Linked DNA regions of Homo sapiens: regions 1 and 2 are each linked to region 3. The links come from fine-mapping of genetic effects on gene expression. A gene starts in region 3. Each other region holds a variant in brackets. All regions are shown on one strand. Distances are between the middles of the regions. Region 1 overlaps ERN1 (endoplasmic reticulum to nucleus signaling 1). Region 2 overlaps ERN1 (endoplasmic reticulum to nucleus signaling 1). Region 3 holds the start of ERN1 (endoplasmic reticulum to nucleus signaling 1).

Region 1 (8,183 bases), 58 kb before region 3:
TGTAGTCCACGTCGTCCTCAGGCAGTGAGGCCGCATAGTCAAAGTAGGTGGCATTCCACCGGAGCTCTCGGGTTTTGGTGTCGTACATGGTGATGGTGTATTCTAAAGAACACAGACCAGCCAGCCCATTACCACGGAGGGGCCATAGTACCTACTGAGGTGTGGTCCTTATCTAATTATAACAAACAAATCCTCCCTAAACTGTAGGCCAAAAAGTCCAGACTATCCATGTCGATAGAGAAAGGCAATGTGAGGAGAACTGAAGGCCCAGACACATGAGTGAAACTGGCTGACAGCATGTGGAAGCAGAGACGACCCACCCTCGCTATGCCCTTGGACTCATGGCTCACAGAAGTGTAAGCAATAGAATGTTGTTGTTAGCCATTAAGCTTCGGGGTGCCTTATTACATAGCAATGGATTGCTGACAATTAAAAATTGGCACCTTGAAGCAGGATGGCGCCATAACAAACACCTAAAACATGTGGCATTGACTTTAGGACCAGCTGGCAGGTGGAGGCTGGGAGGCTGATAAAAAGGTTGGTGGAGACTTGCTAGTGCAGAGGGGGCACTGCTATTGAAAATGGAAAAGGGGTGACCCAGCTTGTGGAGGGTGCCATGATGAGCATGACTATTGCTTGCAGTAACTTGGAAGACAGAAAAAGTACCTAATCAACTCAGGGATCCAACTAAGGAGATTTCCAGACAGAAGGCAGAAAATGTTGAATGGTTTCTCTTAGCTGTCTATGATATATTGTGAGACAAATGAGCTGAGGAAGAAATCATTCAGCAGAATACAGAGGAACTATAAAGGGTCCAGGACTGAATATCGCTGGAAAAGATTCTCAATATAAAAAATAACTTTAGGGAAAAGATCAAATCCAGGGTACTGCCAGCAACAAAAAATGGGCTCAGGGTAAAGATCAACCAAATCAAAGTTGAAGCTGTAAGATCCTTCTTTGAGACCTCTGAAAGATTTTAAGGTGGTCCCTCATAGACCCTCTGCCCCCATCAAGGGAGTTCTAAAAACCATGTGTTGTCCCATTGCACTCACATTCCAAAGTCTAGAAACTTGTGGGTATGGCTTTTATCTAATGGAATAAATTATAATTTGACACATGGGAAGCCCACATAGTTTTTAAAGGAGTGGTATCAGCATAGACTAAAAGGAACAGAGACAGTCAAATTGAAAAAAAAGGGCTTCTAGATCCCCAAATTTCAATGGACAAGGAACGGACTGAGAAAGATACAAAACTGGCCATTTGTTATGGAAAAGAAAGGACTTCTCAGAGGGCAGAACCAAGAGCCACTGAGAGCACTATATTAGGGAACCAATCCCAGAGGGCAAAACTGGGCCCTAATGAAGGAATATTCCCTACCCCTGGAGGAGGGGAACCTGAAAACATGTGCCTGGCTGGATTTCAGAATTACTAAGGCCCAATGTGTGATATGTGTCTCTCTTTCCTGCCCTTTTTTGAGTGAACATGTTTACTGCAGCTATCCTGTCTCTGTCTCACCACTGCATGTTGGGTGGGGGATGGGAAGGGGAGAAAGACCCTGTCTCTTTAATTCACAGGTCTCCGATCAAGAGGTGCCACACTTGAGGAGCATCATCTACCTCCAGACCTCATGCAGATAATGAGAGGTGAGATTTTGGGACTGATGCTGGGATTGGACTTTGGGGGTCTTTGGAGGGAGTGGGAGGGTTGTAAACTACTGCAGCCTGAGGGAGGACTGCAGTAGAACATCTCTAAAGGTCACTACCACCAATTCTTCCCATTCCTGTAATGCATGTTACTCTTCCCATCAAGAAGCCGAGTCTATATCTCTACCCTTGATTCTCAGCTGGCCTTGAGACTTGCTTTGACCAACAGACTGCAGTGGAAGGAAGGTTCTGGAACTTTTGAGCCCAGACCTTAGGAGGCACTGTAACACCCATTTTTACTCAAGAGGGAGCCCGCTGCCATATCAAGAGTCCAGGCTATCTGTATGGAGAAAGGTCACACGGAACTGAACTGAAGTCTCAGATACATGAGTGAGGCCAACCAAGCATGTGGAATAAAGATGATGGGTTCTTGTTGAGTCCTTCCTGAATTCCCTACAGAATCATTAACAATAAAATGCTAAGTTGGGGTGGTTTGTCATGCAGCAATAGATAATGGAGGCAATGGATTTACACACCTATGCACACACATTCCACCTCATGCATATCCCAGCTCCTTCGAACACCACAATTTCACCTGAGAATGACGCAATTTTTATATCTGGATGAAGCTGGGGCCACTGTAAGAATTTACTTAATGGAAAAGGTAAACACATAAATCCTAAGCAGTCACTACAGTCAGAAGCTGGAATACATGATTTCTACAGTCTAAGACCTTCCACCCATTTCCAGGAGAGCCCGGCCAGCTTCTGCAGGGCCCAAGATTAGTCTCACTGAGTTTTAGAAATGCAGTGCTTTCCCCAACACTTTCAGGACGGTTCTCTTTTTTCAAATCCTTGGCTGCCTGAAAGTTTAGACCTAAATGTAGTGCTCAATTGTAATGAATTCATCCTAGGTTTTTGGTATAATTTCTTCCTTCTAAATGTTTTTTGTTTCTCCTTTTAGCTTTAAGTATCGTTCAACAATTTTCATGGCATCCCCGACATGTGTGAGGTGCTGCACATATGGTAATAAGTAAGGCAGGTCTCTGCAATAATGGGACCCACCCATTCATACATTCAAACATTGAGCCCCTGCTACACATCAGGCAATATGCCTGATGTAGAGAGACAGCAGCTGAGCAAAACAAAGTCGTACCCTCAGGGAACTGATATTCTAGTGAGGGAGGCAGGAAGTAGGCACATTGAATTTATAAATATGCAGTGCCAAGTGTTAAGAAGAAAGAGGCTGAAAAGGGAGGAAACACAAAATGGTGCGGTGAAGAGGGTGCAAGCCATGCCTGTCAAGGGACAATGACGAGGGGTGAGATGGCTGCCACTACAGGCCTGTTAACTGCTACGTGTGCCCCTAGAATGGGAGAGCCGGGTGTTCCTGAGCAGGGTGCAGGCTGTGAGGCTGCAGAAGAGGCTTCACAGAGAAGGTGACTTTTGAGTACAGTTGTGAGAGAGGATATTTGCCAGATAGGCAAAAACAGGCATACCTGGTGGAGAGGACCACACCACTACAAGTCTTTAAAAACAACACTGCTATTCTGGGAGCTGCAGGTAGTTCATCCTAATTGGGAAACTTTTTTTTTTTTGGGCAGGGGGGATGGAGTTTTACTCTTGTTGCCCAGGCTGGAGTGCAGTGGCTTGATCTTGGCTCACTGCAACCTCCACCTCCCCAGTTCAGGCAATTCTCCTGCCTCAGCCTCCTGAGTAGCTGGGATTACAGGCACATGCCACCACACCTGACTAATTTTGTATTTTTTTAGTACAGATGGGGT[T/C]TCGCCATGTTGGTCAGGCTGGTCTCGAACTCCTGACCTCAGGTGATCCACCTGCCTCGGCCTCCCAAAGTACTGGAATTACAGGCGTGAGCCACCACGCCCGGCCAGGCAACTTTGAAATGAGAGAAATGAGGCGAGAAAGGTGGCAGCGGCGTCACAGGGGTTTTTCTGGGCCGTGGTGCAGTTTGGACTGTATCCCTTGCACACTGGGGGGACACTGAAGGGTCTTATAAAGGAAAATGACATGATGGGACCTGTGTTTGGAAAAAAGCAGCTCTGGCCACCTTCTAGGGAAGGAGGCTGGGGAGCTTCTTCCGATCTTCTGGAAACAGGCAGGTTGTAGAAGACAAAGGTTCATTTCTTACCTGTTCGCCCAAGATACAGAAGAGAGGTTGATGGGCAGAGACTATCTGCAAAGGCCGATGACAAAGTCTGCTGCTTCTCTCCGGTCAGGAGGTCAATAACATACCAGATGTCCTGCTTTTTACCTGAAAGGACACAAAAACACATCGTCGTTTACACCATATGGAAAAAAGTATCGCTGCCAAACTAGCAGCCAAGATGCTCTGTATTGAGAGAGATAGACCTGAATTTCTTAGGATGTCATTTCTAAGGTGATGATATAAATGGTAATGCAGAGATAATAAAACTTCTTAGGTCCATAGGTCTTATAATAATTTAATAACCTAAACATGGTATACAAATTCCTCCAAACCCAATAACATAATTATAGTTTCAAAAAGTTCCCCAAACTTTCAAGTTAGATTTTATTGCTTTGATGAGTGGCTTTAAATATGAAAAGTCTTGCCTGTGAAGGGCAATCCTTTTCCCGTGGACTGGGATCTATAGAAATACAGAAATGTGCCCAGGGGTTCATCTCCCTAATAACCATCATTCACATTTCTCAACCTCCCTAATAACCAGCCACCATGTGAGAAGGATCCACAGTTACTGTTTATGACTATAATTAACTAGTACCTGGGACTGGTCAGTGGAGTTGGTTGCAACCTGATGCTAAGGATGTCAAAGTTGTCTCGGCCTCTGTTCCCAGCCAGTAAGTAATTCCCTGGCCTCGGGCCATACCCCCTAATCTTGGTCAGCTGATTATGACAGGCAGACAGCACAGTAAATAACACTATATATTAAGAAAACCCAAAGCATATGTATCAATGGTATATACCCAACAGCATCCTAGGAATGGAGAGTCTGTAGCAAGGGCCTCCAATGTGAAGGTCAACACAGTCACTGTGATGCGTGTATTTCCATTTTGTAAAGCATGATCTCTGGTGGTCATTTTTATCTTCCTAACTTATTGGAAAAGTCTCCTGTTTTGGAGACTCTTAGAAGAAGAATATTGAGATGCTGGAGAAGGTCACAGAGCCTTTGAAATTTTTTTTTTTTTTTTTTTGAGACAGAGTCTTGCTCTGTCGCCCAAGGAGGAGTACAGAGGTGTGGTCACGGCTCACTGCAGCCTCAAACTCCTGGACTCAAGTCATCCTTTTGCCTCAGCCTCCCCATAGTTGAGACTACAGGCATGTGCCACTATGCCTGGCTCTTTTTTTATTTTTTTTGGGATGGAGTCTCGCTCTGCCGCCCAGGCTGGAGTGCAGTGGAGTGATCTCGGCTCACTGCAACCTCCACCTCCCAGGTTCAAGCGATTCTCCTGCCTCAGCCTCCTGAGTAGCTGGGACTACAGGTGCGTGCCACCACACCCAGCAAATTTTTTTTTTTTTTTTTTTTTAGTAGAGACAGGGTTTCACCGTGTTAGTCAGGATGGTCTCCATCTCCTGACTTCGTGATCCACCCAACTCGGCCTCCCAAAGTGCTGGGATTACAGGTGTGAGCCACCATGCCCGGCCACCTGGCTAATTTTTATTTATTTTTTATTTTTTTTGAGACGGAGTCTCGCTCTGTCGCCCAGGCTGGAGTGCAGTGGTGCAATCTCAGCTCACTGCAACCTCCGCCTCCAGGGTTCAAGCGATACTGCTGCCTCAGCCTCCTGAGTAGCTGGGACTACAAGCATGTGCTACCACGCTTGGCTTATTTTTCGTATTTTTAGTAGAGATGGGGTTTCACTGTGTTAGCCAGGATGGTCTCGATCTCCTGACCTCGTGATCTGCCCGCCTCAGCCTCCCAAAGTGTTGGGATTACAGGCGTGAGCCACTGCACCTGGCCTACACCTGGCTGATTTTTTAAAAATGTTTCTTCTGTAGAGACGGGGTCTCACTATGTTGACCAGGCTAGTTTCAAACTCCTGGCCTCAAGCAAACCTCCTGCCTCACCCTCCCAAGGTACTGGGATTACAGTTGTGAGCCACTGCACCTGGCCTGTAATTTGCTAATGCTATACCTCTAAAGTTCTAACAGATGTTGCATACATGCCTGCTCCACATGTGTGCAACTTACCCATGGATCGCAACTCTGTTCTCACTGACAAAATCATAATATGAATATGATCTGAAGGTAGAGGAGAACAGAGCTAGGACCACGAACCTTTTCCATCTAGCATGACATAGCTGGTTACTTCAAGAACCACTAGAGTTTACATAACTCAGTTATTACTTTAATGGGTAGATTGGGCAACTACCATGCTCTTAAATATGTTTAATGAACTCGCCTAAGAGGCCACAGCACAAAGATGATAAGAAGACAATATCCTAAGCAGACTATAAGTGATGAATTGCTGGCAAAAGCTGGAAGACCAGATAGGACACAGTGACATGGATGGTCAGAAGATTATCAGATGTTCCCAGGTCACGGCCCACAGAGAGAAAAATCTGTGCCGATCGTTTCCTCCAAATTCCTAGGCTGGGAGTTCCTCATTCTGAAGGTGTGGAAGGAAGCAAGAGTCTCAGTGTCCTGAGCAAAACCTTAAAAGTCTGGCCTGCACTTGAGACCCAGAAATACACATAAAGCTCCTCGAGGCATGAATAGGCAATAAGCACTTTCAGTTCCTCAAAAAGAAAGCTGCTGTATAAATACGGGCTATTATTGCTACTATGATTTCAAGATAAATACAGCTCTCCTTTGTGTTGCAAATGCTTTTTTATTGACATTTTGGCAGCAACATAGTAAAAGAAAAGCAGGTGATCTGATGCTTTGAAAGCTGTGACCCCATAGGTATGAAGGCAGTTTATCTAGGCAAGCTATTAAGTGCTGTTCTATCAAACATTCTGATAGCAGGAAATACTAAGAAAGCGCTATAATTAACAGGCAGAGCCTGGCTTTCCTTCCTTGGCTTAGATGATTGTACTCACTTTAAATTTCATCCATTTGCCACTGGGTATGTTGCAATCTTGGAATCTCAGGACTAAGTCAACACAGCAACTAAAAGCTTGTTAAATGAGTAACCATATTAATGATGTCAATTCTTCTCCCAAGTTGGGGGAGCCCTTTCTTAATTGGTCAGCTGATCCTGGGGAGAACAGCACCTGAAGCACAACCCAGGAAAGAAAGGGTTGGCAAGGCGGTGACTGCGCCCTCTCTCTCCGCATGCCACTTTCCCAGATTCCGGGACTTACATCAAAGAGACACAAGTTTCTGGAGACAGGAACTCTTACCCATGTAGAGGATTCCATCTGAACTTCGGCATGGGGATGCCTGCACCAATTCTGGGATGGTAAAAGGAAGTTTCTTTAAAAAAAAAAAAAAAGAAAAAAAAAAGTTAACCAAGTCTTGTGCAATTATTACAATTTTACCAGGCAGTTTGTTTCTATTACCTAATTCTGCTAAAAAGAGAGAAGCACTTTGCAGATGAGAGTTTTCCTAACTGAATACAAAGGAGAAGGGGGCACCCTATGCTTCCACATCTACTGTGTTTTTATTTTCATTTTTTTGAGACAGGGTCTCATTCTGTCGCCCAGGCTGGAGTGCAGTGGCACCATCTTGGCTCACTGCAACCTCTGCCTCCTGGGTTCAAGTGATTCTCTCACCTCAGCCTCCCAAGTAGCTGGGATTACAGGCATGTTGCCACTACACCCAGCTAATTTTCCACATCTATTTTGACAAGCTCCCAGGTCCCTGAGCTCTGTAAACATCCACTCCTTTACTTGACACCATGTGCAGAGGCCCCTCAAGGTCTCCTGTCCAGGGTGCTTCCCAGGGGTGACACAAACCTTTTCTGAAAAGATTTACACAAATATGGAGAGTTATATATTCTTTGAAATGCTAAGAAAGAATTGTCCTGGCTTGGAATACAGAGCCAGAGCTGGCTAGACTGAGTAAAATGACAGTGCTTTGTAGAGCCCCATGGGAGGGAGCCAGGACATTGATGCTGAAGGGATGCAACCTTGGTGCCAAGCTCAAGCTTCGAGGGAAAGGAGAAGTCGCCATTACAGGGGCAACACAAGAGTTTGAGGTGGAAAAGAGTTTTGATGTTTTCTTCAGTAAATAATTCACTATTGAAAAACAAGAAAAATTGAGACTTTTGGTTTTAAAGAGGAAGTTAAGATAGGTGCCAGGAAAAGAAACTCAAAGGAATCCAAATGTTTCAACTGCATTTCATCATAAAACTGATTCTTCTGAGTCTACAGCTGACATCTGACGAGCTCTTTTGGTTAATGCTTGTTTCAGTATACTTTATTTTTAGAACATTCTGTGTTTTTGAAATTGTTCTATAGATACCTGCTTTTATAGAAATGCCTCTACTGCATGGTCACCTTTTTCTCCAAGAAAGAAAAGATTTCTCTCTAGCTTTAATAAGCAGAGCTTTGCATACTAAATAACTTGGATTTTCCCATCATCCCAACATTCAAACCA
Region 2 (8,140 bases), 78 kb before region 3:
ACTACGGTGCCTCCCTACGCTGGGCCATGAGCTGTTAAAGTGCGGCTGTGACTAAATATGGATTGACGTGGAGAGAGATTCAAGGTGACGCTGAAAAACGTGCATGCTGCAAAACAGTATGCAGGATTTAACTGTATTTTTATAAAATATGCAATCACGTCTAGATAAATGACTGGAATAACGTATATGCAAAGGTATCAATAGCCATCATTCATCCCTGTATAATGGGAATATATGGGCCTTTATGCTAATCTGTGTTTTCTATAATAAGAAAAATTAAGCATAAACAAAACAATAATTTAGTTGTAATTTTTTCAAAAGGCAGCACTGGAGTGTCATGGGCCAATTACCACCCAGGAAAACCTGAAGTCTGGAAGAAAGACTTGTTGCACCCATACCAGGAGACCAGGAGGGTGAGGATAAAGCTTGTCTGTCCCCAGCCCAGCACAGACTGCACCTACTGACCACTCGCCATCCCAAGAGAGAAGACAATTTGTCTTCCCAAATGCCAGTGCAGGAAGGGACCTCTGATTATTCAACCCTCATGTCACCAGGTAGAAAAAGAAGGTCTCCAAAGGGGGCTTTGCCTAGGTCACACAAGTAGTTGGTGACCTGGAGGAACCTTGGAGCATCTCAGCTTTAGAAGGTGGCGCCCCAGAGATAACCCTACCAACCCTCTACCAGATTTGGCACAAGTCTGGAGGTCCTGAGGCCTGCGGGGTGAGCAGCTGGGGCACCACGGCCTCTGTGAGTGCAAAGGTGGCACCAGCCCAGCTCTGCAGGGCCACCTGAGGCAGCTGAGGAGCTGCTCCCAACCCCAACCCCTGGACCGCTCACCGTGCTTCTCTGGGTGCAAGCAGTCAAGGCTGCAGGCACCCAGGAGGATGTTGGCCTGCCGCTGCAGGGACTTGCCAAAAGGGTGGCTGCCCTCAGAGATTACGTAGTAAAAGACGCAGCCTGCAGAAAAGATGTCCACCGTGTAGGTCTGAAAAGAGACATGAGGCGTGAGAGGTCTGGGAGCAGAGTTTTCATCCTCACTCACAGTCAGGGAGGGAGGAGCATTGCTGCTGCTTCTGCCACCTAGAAGGTGTCCTGGGAGAATCAGCTGACATATGTGAGCTGCACAGAGCAGCGAGGGCTAACCTGCAGCACTGCATGGGTGTCAGAGGTCCCAGTGGAGAACCTGGGCTTGGAGCCACCTGGAAGCCCCTGGTTCCCTCTCATGTGAGATGAGGACACTGACAGCATGGGGCTGTTGTCAAAAGAGATGCATTAATATGCAAAAATGGTTGCTTACGACAGTGCTTGGCCCATCAAAAGCCCTCCTGGCTGTTATATATTCCTTACCCCCAACACGAAAGTGCTCACAGACAGGGTCTCTGTGTCGTTGCTTCCCTGCTGTACCCCCAGGGCCCAGAATGGTGCCTGCACACAGTAGGTATCAAAATTGCTAATAAGTGAATAAAACAGCTTATGATTCAAAAACAGCCCTAGAAAGAAACTATCTGACAAGTTACCAAGGAGGTCATGTTTGATGTTAATCCGAGAAAGCCTCTCACTTATCCCATGAAACCATTCTGTGTCTACAGAATAGCTTCCTTCGAGGGAAATGTACGTTTGTGTTTTTTAGCTCATGCTACCTGGGGTGTAATACCAAGGTGGTTCCTGAGCACAGCTTGGGTCCCTGTTAGTAGGCCCTGCCTCTGAGATTCTCCACCAGGTGAAGTGAGGGTCTAGTGTGAGGAAGCAGGGGCTCATCACCTCCCATGCTGGAGGAGACACACCTTGAACAACACAGCACTCTCATTCAGCCTCACAACAACCTTGTGAGGCGAGCAGAGCAAATGCTTTCATCCCCAGATGAGAACGTGGACAGAAAGGTTGCATGACAAGCTCAGGGTCACTGCTGGATGTGATAAACCAGGATGGGACTCAGGTCTTCCAATCTCCAAACCTACCATGCTTTATTCTACCTCACTGGATTTTCCCTTAGGAAGGTGCTGGATTCGGGACAGGAGGAACATGGCCACCACAGCTGGAGCTCGCCCCTGACTCCCAGAGCTCTCTGGGTCTTTCACGCCCCCCACACTCTCTGCAGCCTGCTGTCCCCAGCACAGACAACACTAAGGTGAAGAGGCATCTTTCCTACCTGCCTGGCCCCAATTATGTTCTTTCCCAAACTTATTATTGCCACTTGTCCTTGTAATTTGGATATTCCATAAGCTGTTAAACATGAGTGCCACGAAGTCTGAGGTAAGCTGAATCTTTAGAAAGACTCGATAAAGGAAAGGGAATGGTTACAAGAGCTGCTGCGGCATTTGGTGTGGTGGATTCAACCGTAAGGGACTGGGTCATGAAGCGTTAAAAACCAGGCTTCTGCTCTCAAATCGCTTAGGAAGTGTTTGAAGTGTCCAAGCCTCCATGCAGAAGTCACAGAAGTGGTACAGAAGTGTGCTTAATGCAAGGGGGAAAATGAGGACTCCAGTCAGTCAGACCCAAATCTGAAAAGACCTTAGCCTACAGCACAAGATTTCTATGACTTAAGGGCTAATATTACTTGCTTTAAGTTAAAATTAAGTGTTACGGCGTGCGTGCGTGTTTTTATGATTCTTCGCTGTAACTGACTTCTTTGATGATCTGACCAGCTGCTGGTCCCCAGTGAGCTGGATAAGAGGCAGCCATATCTAATCCACTCAAGATGACTGACCCACCCAGGTCTCCATCGGGGAGTGTCCAAGGTGAGCCTCGGCGACTTGTGCTAGAATAAGGTGCTCAAGTGTGAGTGCGCTCCCAGCAAATGGATGCAGAAGCCAGCTTGAAGGGGTTTCCAGGTTGGCCAAATTTGGAACAATTTGTGTATCAAAAGAAGTAAATAACAAAAAAAGGACTAAAATGGATTATAACATTAGTTTCAAAATCCTTGAGCCCATAGCGATTAAGAAAAAAAAAAAAGAGAGAGAGAAGAAAGTGAAAAGAAAGCTCTGCTTTACAGAAAAATGTCAGCTAACAATGTAGAAGAATTTCTACTCAACTGAGTACTTCAGGCAAGGGTGATCAACACATGCTAAACCACTGGGTGAGTGACTGTCAGTAAACAGGATATTCACATTGTGCTGAAGTATCACCCCAAATACTAACAAGAGAGGAGGAAATGAACCCTTATGGTAGAGAGATCAGCTGTAGCATCACTAAGAGGAGGTGATAATAATCTTACAGATACA[A/G]TCTGCCATCACATGCTTTCTGATGTAGAGACCTGCCAAAAACATTCGTGCCAAAAACATTTAACTTGAACCTAATCAAGCCTCTCCACCTAACTTCTGGTTTCCAGGAAATACAAGGAATACAGAGAAATGTTCAACGCTGTCATGAGGAAAAAAGCAAACAAACCAGAATGGGGCATCCTATAACCCACTGCCTGGACTCTTCAAAATGGAACTTCAACATGGAACAAAATATAGGTGGAAAGATTTGTAAATTCCAAGAGACAGAATCAAATGTAACGCAAGACACCTGATTCCATCCTGGTATATAAAACCCAGTAGGTATCAAAACCCAGTAGGTAGCAAAATACCAACTCTATAAAAGACATTTGGGGACTAATTGGGGAAATTTGAATATGGATTGAATATGAGATGATGGATAGAAACAGTATTAACTGTTGAGGTGGGATAATGGTATTGTGGTTGGAAACACAATGTATTCCTTAGGAGACACGTGCTGAGGTCTTCAGGGATGAAGGGCCAGGATGCCTGCTACTTATATTCAAATGGTTCAGTAATAGGTAAAGATAAAGCAAATGTGGCAAAAGTATTAACAAATGTTGAATCTAGGTGGAGATACACAGGTATTCATGTTAACATTCTTTCAGCCAGATGCTGTGGCTCATGTCTGCAATCCCAGCACTTTGGGAGGCTAAGCCTGAGCCCAGGAGTTCAAGACCAGCCTGGGCAAAATAGCGAGATCGCACTTCTAAAAAATTTTTTTCTTTTAATTTTCTCTATGTCTAAAAATTATCAAAATAAGTTGAGAAAACAAAAACAAAATTTTAAAAATAATGAAAACTTGAAGTTTGCTCACGCTAAGCAAGCCCTGACTTCCCAGTTTACCAAAATTAAAAAGGGGTTAAAAAGTGATTGATTTAGCTGGGTGTGGTGGCAGGTACCTGTAATCCTAGCTACTCAGGAGGCTGAAGCAGGAGAATCGCTTGAACCTGGGAGGTGGAGATTGCAGTGAGCTGAGATCATGCCACTACACTCCAGCCTGGGTGACAGTAAGACTCTGTCACACAAAAAAAACAAAAAAACAGCCAACCAACCAAACAAAAAAAAAAAACAAGTGATTGGAAGAATAGGGAAAAAAAATAGATAATTGCCCACATTTGCCCCTTTAATCAGCTGAACATGAGATGACACAGAATGTTCACACAGAAGCTCTTGGTGAAAGGAATGCCATTCTCCAGCTACACGGGCACCAGCCCCCAAACCTGGAATTTAAAGGTTCTACTCCTGAAGATACAATGGGCTGGTTCTGTAGTTTTCAAAGGGCCATAGCCTATTACTCACAGGGTTCTCCTTACAGTCTTCGCTCAGCATCTCTGGAGCGATCCAGCCTTCTGTGCCAGGCACCCCAGATCGGCGGCTGAAACTGTGTCTGCCCACTGCCAGCTTCTTGCAGAGGCCAAAGTCGGAGATCATGGCCTTGATCTTGCCGTGTGCATTGGGCATGGATATGAGGATGTTGTGTGGCTTTAGGTCTCTGTGAACTAACAGAGAACTCCAGATTAGTCCAATGCTTACCAGGAGCAACCCCAGGCCTCCTCCAATGGGGAATGTGTCCTCGTCAGACTCCCAATATGCCTGCCGCCACCTCCAAATGTTCTGATTTTCAACTATGTCGGATTCCTCCTCAAATTCTTACACCACTCATCTTTGCTACTGGTGATATAGCCAAGAGCTTGAACAGAAGCAAGGCCCACCCGAGCTACTGGTTAGCCCCACCTGGGCCACTGATTCTCCCCACCCGGGCCGCTGGCCTGGTAAAGTGCAGCCTCTCACCGATGTTGAGGGAGTGGAGGTGGGCCAGGCCCGAGGTGGTCTGCTGCAGCAAGGTGATGGGCTCCAGGCCGAGATGCGCAAAGTCCTTCTGCTCCACATACTGCAAAAGACATGACAGCAAGGTCACGGCACACAGTCCTCAGGACTTGGCCCCTCGGCTCACTTTCTTTGATACCATTTTAAGAAAGAAATGGCAAGTTTTACTGACAACATTCTGTCTAAATCCATGTTTTCCAGCAAGGAGCAAACCTCCAAATCTACTAATTTACAATGAGAAAGATAAGAAGGCAAGAAACTCAAGTTCATTGCCTCATATAAGTAAACCTACAAAGGAATCCAAATGATACTGATATGGTTTCAAAGTGAGCCTGGAAAATGAGCAAAAGGAGCTTGCTGGATGATCTTAAAGCCTGGAGTTACCAACTGGCATCCTCCAAGCCCACACCAGCCATGACTGAAGAGGGAAAGAACAACTGTCCAGGTTTCCTGGAGGCAAAGAGGGAGAGACATGCCAACTGCAAGCAGACTGCCCAGGCATGCTGGGGGGACCACCCTGTTACAACCAGAGGGATAAAAATGCTCCACATTTTGACTGTGTATGTGGTTAAATGGGTATAGACATTTGTCAAAATTCATCAAGCTATTACATTTAAAATTAGTACAATTCACTGTAACTTTTTTTTAATTTGACGGGGTCTCACTCTGTTGTCCAGGCTGGAGTGCAGTGGCACAATCACTGCTTACTGCAGCCTTGATCTCCCAGGCTCAAGCAATCTTCCCACCTCAGCCTCCCAAGTAGCTGGGGCTACAGGAACACATCGCTAGGCCTGGCTAATTTTTGGTTTCTTTGTAGAGATGGGGTTTCACCATGTTGTCCAGGCTGGTCTCAAACTCCTGAGCTCACGTGATCTGCTCACTTTGGCCTCCCAAAGTGCTATGACTTTAATAAAGTTAACAAAATAAAAAAAATAAATCCACCTCTTGCAGGGTGGCTGCACACAGCTCGATGGCAATGTACTGGAATTGCCGGTCCTTCTCCGTGCAGAAGTAGCGGATCACGTTCGGGTGCTCATCCGATTCTCGCAACAGCTGGACCTCACGGTCTGCGAAGCTAAAACACTCGGGGAGGATCCTCTTCACGGCCACGTCGCGGTTGTCAAACATGCCCCTGCGGGATGAGGAGTGGGAGTTGTGTCTGGGAAGCACGAGTCAGGCTGTGTAAATGAGGTGAGAACCTGGGTCCACAGCATTCACCTACTGCCTCCCAGCCTAGAGAGCCCCGCCTGACTGCCTGGTGGCCCCGGAATCATCGCTTGTCTCAGTGTGCAAGCTCCCTGGAGGCCGGACTCCATGCGTCTAGGTCACTGCTTTGACCCTGCTGTGCTCTGAGCCTGGCACCAGGCTCGCAACCTGACAGGCACTTAGACACCAGGCGGTGAGGGCAGGGGGCTGGCTAATCCACTCACCGGTACACAATTGTGCCCTCAGCTCCATGGCCCAGGACATCCTTGGGACAGAAGGAAATTTTCCCAACTATCACCACGCTGGTTTCCTCATCTGGGACAAAATAGGAAAAAGAGATTGTTTCAAACAGATATCACCTAAAGAACCTTGAGGTTAACATAGTGACAAGCTTCCTGACCTCAGATTAAAAGATGGGATTTAAGAGGCACTGCACCCCAGACTGCTGCTCAGCAAGAGCCTGCCAGGCCCACTCCCCATGTACACCCAGGACTGCCTCTTCCCCCTGCCCCTGCATTCTGTCTCCGCCTTTACCTTATTGTGCGATTGCATATCTTAAAACCTTCTGGAAGGCAGGGATTCTCCATAGCGTTTCACACACTTATACATATTCATTGTGATATAGTTAGAATGGTTTAATAGTTAACAACCACCACAAAGTCCACTGTAAAGATCCGCACTGAAGCATTCAGGTGGCGGCAATGGACATGTAAAACGAGGAGACTCCTTGGGACAGAGGGCTCTGAGTTCCCTGCACCAGCTCTGTGCCAGTTCCCTCAGAATTGGGGCTCTGACAACTGGCTTGAGCCAACTTCCACAGAGGAAAGCAGACCAACTGTGACACTTCCACACTTGGCCACCGGCTGGCCCTGGGAACTCTCTTCAGCCCAATGGGCAGCTCACCTCTGGTCAGCCGCGACGCCCAGCCCTTGTGGAGAAAGACAGGAGGATGGCCAGGGTGGTTCCCAGAAGGCCCTCTGAAGGGGAGATGCCAAGGGATGGGGCAGAAGCCTTCCCACAGAGACCCCCAGAGTGGAAGTTAGAGGAGAACACAGTGAACCCCTGAGAATGGTAGTTTACAATCTTATGGAGACTCCTTGGACTTCTCAGGAGGTGCTCGAATAAAACATAAAATAGCACCAAGATGGCAACTGGCTTTACCTCCATCGTCTTGTTCCAGGGAGGGGCTGCTGCCAGCCTTGGAGGCAGAGCTGCCGGAGCAGAGCGAGTGGTTGGAGGCCCTGGGGGACGTGCTGGGGCTGCTGGTGCCCGAGCTCTCTGAGTACGGGCCAGACGTGTCCAGGAGCTCGCCGTCCTGAGCCGTGTCTCCAGGTGGGTGGAAGGGCAGCTGCTGCTGCTGCTGCTGCAGGAGCTGGATCTTCTCCAGTTCCTTCTGGAACTGCTGGTGCTGGAGCTGCTGCTGCTGATGCATGCTCTGGGAAGAGAAACCCACATCCAGACAAGGGCAGCTGTTCCCACAGGGAAACAAGCAGCTGGGAAGGGACAGGTCCCAGTGGCGGAGGGAGCATGTGTACTTTATGTGACCCAACAGGGCACAAAGAGACCAGTGAGAAGGCACCTGGAAGCAGAATTGCTTCGATGACTGGACGTCTTTCCACCGACTAGTTAGATCCTTGCTCATACAGCCCACTCCCCAACCCTAGGAGGGGCTGGATGGCCACCAGGGGAGGGACTGTGCCCTAGGTTGAGGGCTGTGCCAGTTTCATTCAGTTCTAAAATTCTGTGATTTTCATGAAAGTCTGAGAGTTGTTGCAAAGGTGAAACCAAACAGGAAGCACAGGTAGCATGGCTGAGCCAGTGGTGGGTGAGAGCAAGCCCCAGGT
Region 3 (8,163 bases):
GGGAAATATTTCCAACCAGTAGTTTATTATTCACAAACTGTGATTCACCAGTCCTATTTTTTAAGCCAGCATCACGCTCTAATCATATTCCTAGGTTACAAGCCCAGTTATTTGTGCATAATAAAAACTGAATCCATTAAGATGATACATTAGGCTTTTCTTCCCTATGTCATCTCTTTAGGGAGACATTTGATTATAAAACCTACAAAATATTGAACCTACATATTACTTTGGATCCCGAAACCAAAGAGGTTTCCTATGAAAATGAAACAGTTATCCAAGGATTCTTTCACCTGAAAAACGGAGTCCAAATCTGGGGCAGGCAAATAATGAAACCCTCAGACCTATGCAAGTGACACTATTCCATCCAGACATGAAGAAACTTTAATGCGGCTCACTAGATTTATGTTCGGAAATATGGGCTATTGTTGAACTCTCTCTCGAATAACTCTCAGATACATTTTTCTCCTGTGCTCTGAGAAGCTACATTACTGCAGAAGGCTGAATAGGCAGGCAAGTTAATGAAACAATACACATGTGCACAACTACAGTTTAATTTCATGATCAGCAGCCCTGATAACAAACTCAATGAACATTCTACTTATGGCCTCAGTATAAACACTTGATATCGCCTATTAGGATAATTAATGCAGGTGATCACTGTCAGAATAAATGATAAGCAAAGACATTGCTAGTTAAGACTCATCTATCAGATTACAGTGTTTCTATACACACATGATCCTCAGTTCTCGGTGACTTTTTAAAAACCTCCCTCTAAAACCAAAATATTGGCTAAATGAAAGAAATCTGATATCTTATAGCTTTTAAAAAAAAAGGTACTTTGCCTCACATTGTACTGATCTCTTTGGTAATTGAGAGATGTGGCACCTAAATAACCATAAAATGAGGACTGCTGACAGTGATGATGTAACCCTAACCAACTCTAGGAGCAAGATATAGGTCTAGGAAGAAAGGAAAAACTCACTGACTAAATAAGCACATTCTGGATTAACAAAAGACAGCCTCAAGTGCTTAATAATACCAATGTTATTGCGTTTTGGATCTGGTAGCCTAAAGTCTCAACTCATAATGAGTCAATGTCTGGCTCAATAAGACACACACTGAAAGAAAATCACAGTATTGCCTCCAATGCAATAGTTACTACATCAATCAAAAAGAAATATCAAAAACTATTTCTTGCAGAGGCATAGTATAACATTCAAAAAATGATGGCTTAGAGTAAAAAGCATCTTTGGAGCATAAAGAGAATTTACATTTATTATCTATTAAGCACGTGTGAAGGTGGTGCCTTCTTTCACATGTTAGCTGTCCCCATTTCACCTATCAGGAAGGAGTCTCTAAGAAGTAAAATCATGGCCGGGTGCGGTGGCTCATGCCTGTAATCCCAGCATTTTGGAAGGCCAAGGTGGGTGGATCACTTGAGGTCAGGAGTTCGAGACCAACCTGGCCAACATGGTGAAACCACGTCTCTACTAAAAATACAAAAATTAGCCGGGTGTAGTGGTGGGCTCCTGTAATCCCAGCTACTCGGGAGGCTGAGGCAGGAGAATCGCTTGAACCCGGGAGGCGGAGGTTGCAGTGAGCTGAGACCACACCATTGCACTCCAGCCTGGGCAACAAGAGCGAAGAAACTCCATATCAAAAAAAAAAAAAAAAAGAAGTAGTAGTAGTAGTAGTAAAAGAATATGCCTAGGGCACAGCTAGCAAGTGACCAGTTAGAACTCAGGTTTGTCTGATTTTATACCCACTGCGTTCTGCACATCACTGTTGCCTGGTTTAACTGCAAACTTTGCTATGAGTTTCATTTACAATTTTAAAATAATAATTCTTACTATGTTTGGGGGTAAAAACCCTTGGGAGAAAATTCTAGGAGTGAAATTCTGACCTTTCTTTTTTTTTTTTGAGACAGAGTCTTGCTCTGTCACCCAGGCTGGAGCACAGTGACTCCATCTCTGCAACCTCTGCCTCCCAGGTTCGGGTGATTCTCCTGCCTCAGCCTCCCCAGTAGCTGGGATTACAGGCCTGCGCTACCACGCCCGGCTAATTTTTTTTTTTTTTTTTTTTTGTATGTTTAGTAGAGACAAGGTTTCACCATGTTGGCCAGGCTGGTCTCAAACTCCTGACCTCAAGTGATCCACCCACCTCAGCCTCCCAAAGTGCTGGGATTACAGGCATGAGCCACCGGGCCCGGCCTGACCTTTCACCTAAATATAGTTACGCTAAACTATAACCTTTTGATAAGGGTCTGGAATATTTTATCATGAACTCTGAGAAGTTTGGATTTCTAAATACAAATTGGAAATATTTACACGAACTGAAACTATAGTTCCAACTACAGCTAAATCGTTATTTTTGGCTCTTTAGCCTAAGTTATTCAATAACCAAACACTAGAATCCAGTGACAAAGTAGCAAAAGGAAAGATGTGGCAAAGGAAACCATTATACACCTATCCCTTGACGTTATGAAATGATCGAATTCATGTCAAACATTTGGTCATTCTGCTTATACCTTCGTTTGTGAACAGATGCCAGGCAGTAGTTACCAATCCAAGGTGAGGTGCTCAAGTTCAAAACCTGACCTTAGTTGTAAAAGTGGGGTTTTTATTTGAAAGAAAAACTTAACTTCCACAAGTTCTATTATAAAGAGTCTACAAATTTTCCTTTATTTAAAAAAAAAAACCCTGAATTTGAAAAAGGCAACCTTATTTATTTACTTCTCCTGTTTCCAAATTCTTGTTACTCCAAGAGTACAGACAGTTATTTACCTAAAATGCAAAACCTCCAAAGAGTTCACACGGTGGCTGGCACTCAGGCACACACATGTCAGTGCTCTACTGGGACACCTGGTACATGATATCCCTATTAAAGAGTACACAGTACCTTTAAAGAGGTCATTAAACAGAACACGGACAAATTTGCCACGCTCACATCCTGAACAATACATTTTGTGAAAAACATTCGCTAATTTAGGTTCTTCCAACCAGAAGAAAAAAAAAAGCCAAGTCTCCCACAAAGTGCCCCCAAATCCACAGCTGAGTGAAGGTCATAAAGAGTTAAATGAATGTAAACCAGGCCCTATCATTCGTCTCCTCCAGAAAAAGATGAAAAGACATTTCTGATGGCCCCAGGTGCTCTCCCACGAGGAGACAGTCTTTCATTTGAGGTTCTGAAGCGGCCTCACCTCGAACCCATGCGGGATCTTCCAAGAGTGCAATTCCCACAGCTCCACTTGCTCAAGGAAGTCTCGGTGCACAGAAGGAAGCCTGCAGCCTCCCAGTACCAAGAAACCGGCAGGGCAAGTGGCAGAAGCCAGCTCTCGGGTGAGAGTCCTTACTCCCTGTTGCATTCGTTCCCCAAAGTTTTCGAATTTTTAAAAAGTTCAAACAAGGATTCGAAGCGCAGGACAGACCCTTCCCCTGGATCCCAACGCCCTTTCGGCTCCTCCGCGGCCCCCGCCAGGCAGCGCCGGCGCCCGCCCGCGAGGAGGAGGGTCCCGCAGGTGGGCGGCCTCCTCAGGCCGGGGCCTTCTGGGACCCCCAAGTGCCGTGCAGGACGCCACGAAGTTGCGCCCGAGCCCGCGGGGTCCGGGGAGCCGCTGCCCGTGACAGCCGCGCTGGCTTGGGAGGCTCTTCGGGCGGCCGACGCCTCGGTGGGGCCGCGACTCCCGTCAGGGAAGCTCTCCCGGCCCGGTGCCGCCTCCTACGCCCGGCCCGAGCCTCCCACGGCTGGGCTCACGGGGCATCTGGCCGCCGCCGTCGCGCTCCCAGCTCGGACTCCAGCCCCGGCGCCGCGACGCTGCCCCGGCCCCGACCCGGCCGTCGCGAGCTGTCCTCCACCCCACGCTCCCCGGTCACTCACCCCGAGGCCGGGCAGCAGCAGCGTCAGCAGCAGCAGCAGCCGCCGGGCCGGCATGGCGAGGACTCGGCCCTGGCTCCGGGGGCGGTACGGACAGAGGACGGGGCGGGGGCGCCGCGACGACAGCGAGGCGGTGACCGAGCCTCAGCGGACGCAGAACTGACTAGGCAGCGGCGGCACCCCCATTCCCGGCCCTATAAGCGCTGGGTGCCGCGGCTTCTTCCGGTCGGGGCGGAGTTGCGGGCGGGGACGGGGCGGGGCCAATCTAGGGGCGTGTTCGGGGCGGAGATGGGGGCGGGCCGAGGGCGTGCCCCGGGCGGGGATGTGGGAGGGGCTGGCTCGGGGCGGGGCCGAAGGCGGTGCTGGCATCTGGCTGGCTTCGCTCATGAGGCGTCGGCGGCTGTAAAGGACCAGGCCTCGGCATCCAGCGTCTGGGGGCGCTGGGGGATCGAGGCGCGAAGCTTGTCTGTGGCTGGGAAAGACCGGCAATGCCCCACCAGGCCGTCCCATTAACCCTGCCGAGGGACCTGCCGCGTCAGACTTCATCGGGGAAAAGGGCGGGACACGGGCGGTCCCGGGTGCCTAGAAGCCTCCTTTTCGTCTTTCCGCCGTGGTGGAATCATCCGCAAGGTTTACCGAGGCGACCTCCGGAGCGAAGGTTTCAGCAGCTACCGGAGGCTTCCAGCAAACACGGCGCAGCTGCCCCGCGCGGCAGTCGCAGTGTTCACAGCCCTAGGGTTCTCCAGCTGTGCCTCGTCTTCTCTGGGGCCCCTTTCTTCCTTTTCCTTGCCCTCAGGAATTCCCCTCAAGTCATATCCACCAGCCATCACTTCCGCTTGGAATGAACCACGGCCAAGTCACTCACCAAAAATTATAAGGAGGAAACCATTTCGGCCACTTGTGTCACGTGCGTTGATGTGACACGTGTGGATGTGAAGTTTGAGATGGTCTGCGTCACAACTCGTTGGAGGGAGTGGGTGGGTTGAGGCCTCCTGCAAGGTCTATGTGAGGGTGTGGAGTACTAATTAGAGTTAAAGAGCTCGGCAGCTGTTTGGTCACTGGCACTGGCCTCCACTGAGAGGGACATGGGTAGGGAGGACACGTCTTTTGCAAGGAAAGACAGTAAACTGAGATTTGGAGCCCAGGGAAAGGTATCTAACTTATCCTAGGAGAAAAAGAAAACGGCTATGAAATTCTCTAATTTTTCCTGACTTGCTTATATGAGAGCCTAAGATTTTTCAGGTTTGAAGGAAAAGAATAAGCACTCCTAGACAAAACAACAAAGTAGTAGTGGGGGACTGGCCAAATGTCCAGTCTGTGTGCATTGTGGTCAATCTTATCCAACTAAAACAGACCAAAATGACAGTAAGCCCAAATCCTGCAAATAGAGCTCCCCATTCCTAACCCCCTAGGCCTGGATTACAGTGAAGGGACTAAGTCCTACCGCATGCTGGAGACTCCAACACATCTCTGTAAGAGTGGGAAGAATCTTGGCAACTGTGAAAACAGTAGAGACATTTTGAAAAGTGTTACCTGAATGTCTAAATGCAAACAGAGGTTTGGGATTGGCAGAGAGATGTACTGAGAGGCCCAGCACTCCTGAGCAGTATAGCCGGGCTTCCAGGGAGGCCTACAGCCCTGAAACTGGGAGGAGCTCTTTATTTCTTGACCTTTTATCTTTTCTTTTTAGAGATGAGGTCTCACGGTGTTGCCCAGGCTGCTCTCAAACTCCTGGGCTCAAGAGATCCTCCCCAGTAGCTGGGACTTCAGGTGTGCCCCACGACACCTGGCTTGGGAGGACCTCTTTAGTGATTACCTGTCCAGTTTGCCAGCTGACAACAGCATCTGTTAGACCCTGTATACTTGACTTAAAAGAGAAGCTTGACTGAAAAATGTCACTTTCACATCCCCCCCTCTGGTGCTTTTTCTCAAACAGAGTAAGTCTAGGAGGGGAAAATTTGCTGTACTGGAACTCTGGCAGCCCTTTTACAATTCAAAATGTCACTGTGACCCTGTAACATCAGCAGATGAAACACAAAGGGGAATGCTGACCTCAATTTCACTCATAAATCAGTTTTAAAGATCGTAGAAAGAAAAAAAATCTGTTCCAAGAAGCCTGGACAGTTAGGTATTATTTATCTTACACTCAGTTGGACCAAATCCCCAGGGCTTAATTGCACTGTTACATGTTCTCTGAATTTCTTTCTTTTTTTTTTTTTTTTGAGACAGAGTTTCACTCTTTTGCCCAGGCTAGAGTGCAGTGGCACGATCGTGGCTCACTGCAACCTCTGCCTTTTCGGTTTCAAGCGATTCTCCTGCCTGAGACTCCCGAGTAGCTGGGATTACAGGTGCCTGCCACCACGCCTGGCTAATTTTTGTATTTTTATAGAGACGGGGTTTCACCATGTTGGCCAGGCTGGTCTCGAACTCCTGACCTCGTGATCTGCCCACCTCCGCCTCCTAAAGTGCTGGGATTACAGGCGTGAGCCACTGTGCCCGGCCCCATTCTCTGAATTTCTTATGCATCGTCCACATGCTTCATGCACTTCTTCACTTGATTGGCAATCCAGACAGATAAGCACTGGTTTTATTTATGGTGGCATTGCCCATAATCTTGCTCTACAGTCAAGTACTTCTTTAGGCAGCTTTTTGCTTATGATAAAGTAAAAGCTGATAGCACTGATAAACACAAACAGAAATGGAATATTTTGTAGGGTGCCTTTGAAGTGGACCTGACCATATAAAAGACCTGCAAATGGGCAGTAAATGACCTTTCTGCAAGTCACATTAAATAACATCCACTGAATAAAGCAAAGGTCATGGTCTTAGTGTAAAGATAAGGCCTCTTTTCCACCAGTGTAAGAAACATATATACATCAGATTCAACAAAGAAGTACAGCAGGATCTGACTATGGGGAGGTGGGAGAAAATCTTATTTTCACTTCCCTTTAAACCACTGGTTCCCAAACTTGGAGAGCTAAAAAAACAAAACAAAACAACAACAACAAAAAACAGATTTCCAGGCCAGGCATGGTGGCTCACGCCTGTAATCCCAGCACTTTGGGAGGCCGAAGCAGGAGGATTGCTTGAGATCAAGACCAGCCTAGGGAACATGGTGAGACCCTGTTTCTGTAAAAAAAAAAAAACAAAAAACCAAAAAATTAGTCAGGCATAGTGGTTCACACCTGTAGTTCCAGTGACTTGGGAAGCTGAGGTGGGAGGATGGCTTGAGCCCAGGAGGTCAAGGCTGCAGTGAGCTTTGATCGTGCCATGGCACTCCAGCCTGGACGACAGAGCAAGACCCTGTCTCAAAAAAATAGAAATAAAAAGCTGGGCATGGTGGCTCACACCTGTAATCCCAGCACTTTGGGAGGACGAGGCAGGTGGATCACGAGGTCAGGAGTTCAAGACCAACCAGCCTGAGCAACATGGTGAAACCCTGTCTCTACTAAAAAAACAAAAATTAGCCGGGCGTGGTGGTGTGCGCCTGTAGTCCCAGCTACTTGGGAGGCTGAGGGAGAAAAATCTCTTGAACCCGGGAGGCAGAGGTTGCAGTGAGCCAAGACTGCGCCACTGCACTCCAGTCTGGGCGACAGAGTGAGACTCCATCTCAAAAAACAAACAAAAAAAAAGAAATTAAAAACATATTTCCAATAACTTCTTGTACCCCTTTCCCTGACTGATTCACAATGTCCAGGGGCAGAGCCCAGAGACCTGTGCGTTTTGCAGTTTCCACCGTACACTGAAGGCAGTCAAGATCCAGGGCTCCAGCTCAATCATGATGTCCAGCCTTCATCCCTGCAACCATGAATCCCTTTTAGTTTAGCAAATATCGCCCTCTAGTGTAATAAATTATGACCCAAAAAAGGAGCTTGTGCCTGTCTCATTTGTGTTTAAAACCCTTCAAAATCTCATTTAAAAATGCTTGTGAGGTTGATTTGCAGATAGCTAGTGACAGGATAGATACCTTTGAAGGCGGAGACTTGAAAGAAAAATCTAGTAAAACCAGAAAGAAAGGTCATGGTTGAAAACTCCAGTAACATTTCAAAGGAATAGTATCTTTATCAGAATAAATCAAGTCAGTTTTTTTGTTGTTGTTGTTTTTAGTGATATCGCTGCTGCTGCTTCTTGAACTGAACCTACAGAGTGTGTGGAAGTAGTTATGGGATAAATATTAATACAACCATAAAGGGGCAAGGCGCTGTGACTTACACCTGTAATCCCGCACTTTGGGAGGCTGAGGTGGCGGGTATCTTCAGCCTAAGAGTTTGAAACCAGTCTGGGCAA

Evidence for each region. PIP is the estimated chance that this variant, and not a neighbour inherited with it, causes the effect.
Region 1: its variant is the best candidate, but not a certain one, in a credible set for the expression of ERN1 in whole blood (TOPMed, PIP 0.83).
Region 2: its variant is the best candidate, but not a certain one, in a credible set for the expression of ERN1 in blood mononuclear cells (TOPMed, PIP 0.53).

What each region holds. Positions count from the first base shown.
Region 1 is chr17:64,068,190-64,076,372 of GRCh38, forward strand. ERN1 (endoplasmic reticulum to nucleus signaling 1) reads right to left here. Exons shown (of 22, transcript NM_001433.5): 5 at 6,986-7,058; 6 at 3,792-3,914; 7 at 1-102. Among named protein-coding and RNA genes, the nearest start is that of ICAM2, 52 kb to the left of the region's middle. RefSeq lists silencers at 6,217-6,276, 6,760-7,054 and an enhancer at 6,497-6,576. The variant T/C (reference allele first, on the strand shown) is at 3,427.
Region 2 is chr17:64,048,218-64,056,357 of GRCh38, forward strand. ERN1 (endoplasmic reticulum to nucleus signaling 1) reads right to left here. Exons shown (of 22, transcript NM_001433.5): 13 at 7,458-7,731; 14 at 6,521-6,611; 15 at 6,033-6,222; 16 at 5,055-5,154; 17 at 4,563-4,762; 18 at 838-985. Among named protein-coding and RNA genes, the nearest start is that of ICAM2, 32 kb to the left of the region's middle. RefSeq lists enhancers at 7,040-7,783, 7,784-8,140. The variant A/G (reference allele first, on the strand shown) is at 3,222.
Region 3 is chr17:64,126,097-64,134,259 of GRCh38, forward strand. ERN1 (endoplasmic reticulum to nucleus signaling 1) reads right to left here and starts at 4,048. Exons shown (of 22, transcript NM_001433.5): 1 at 3,880-4,048. The coding sequence starts at 3,933. RefSeq lists silencers at 3,559-4,008, 4,099-4,228 and enhancers at 4,649-4,848, 4,899-4,948, 5,853-5,912, 7,508-7,557.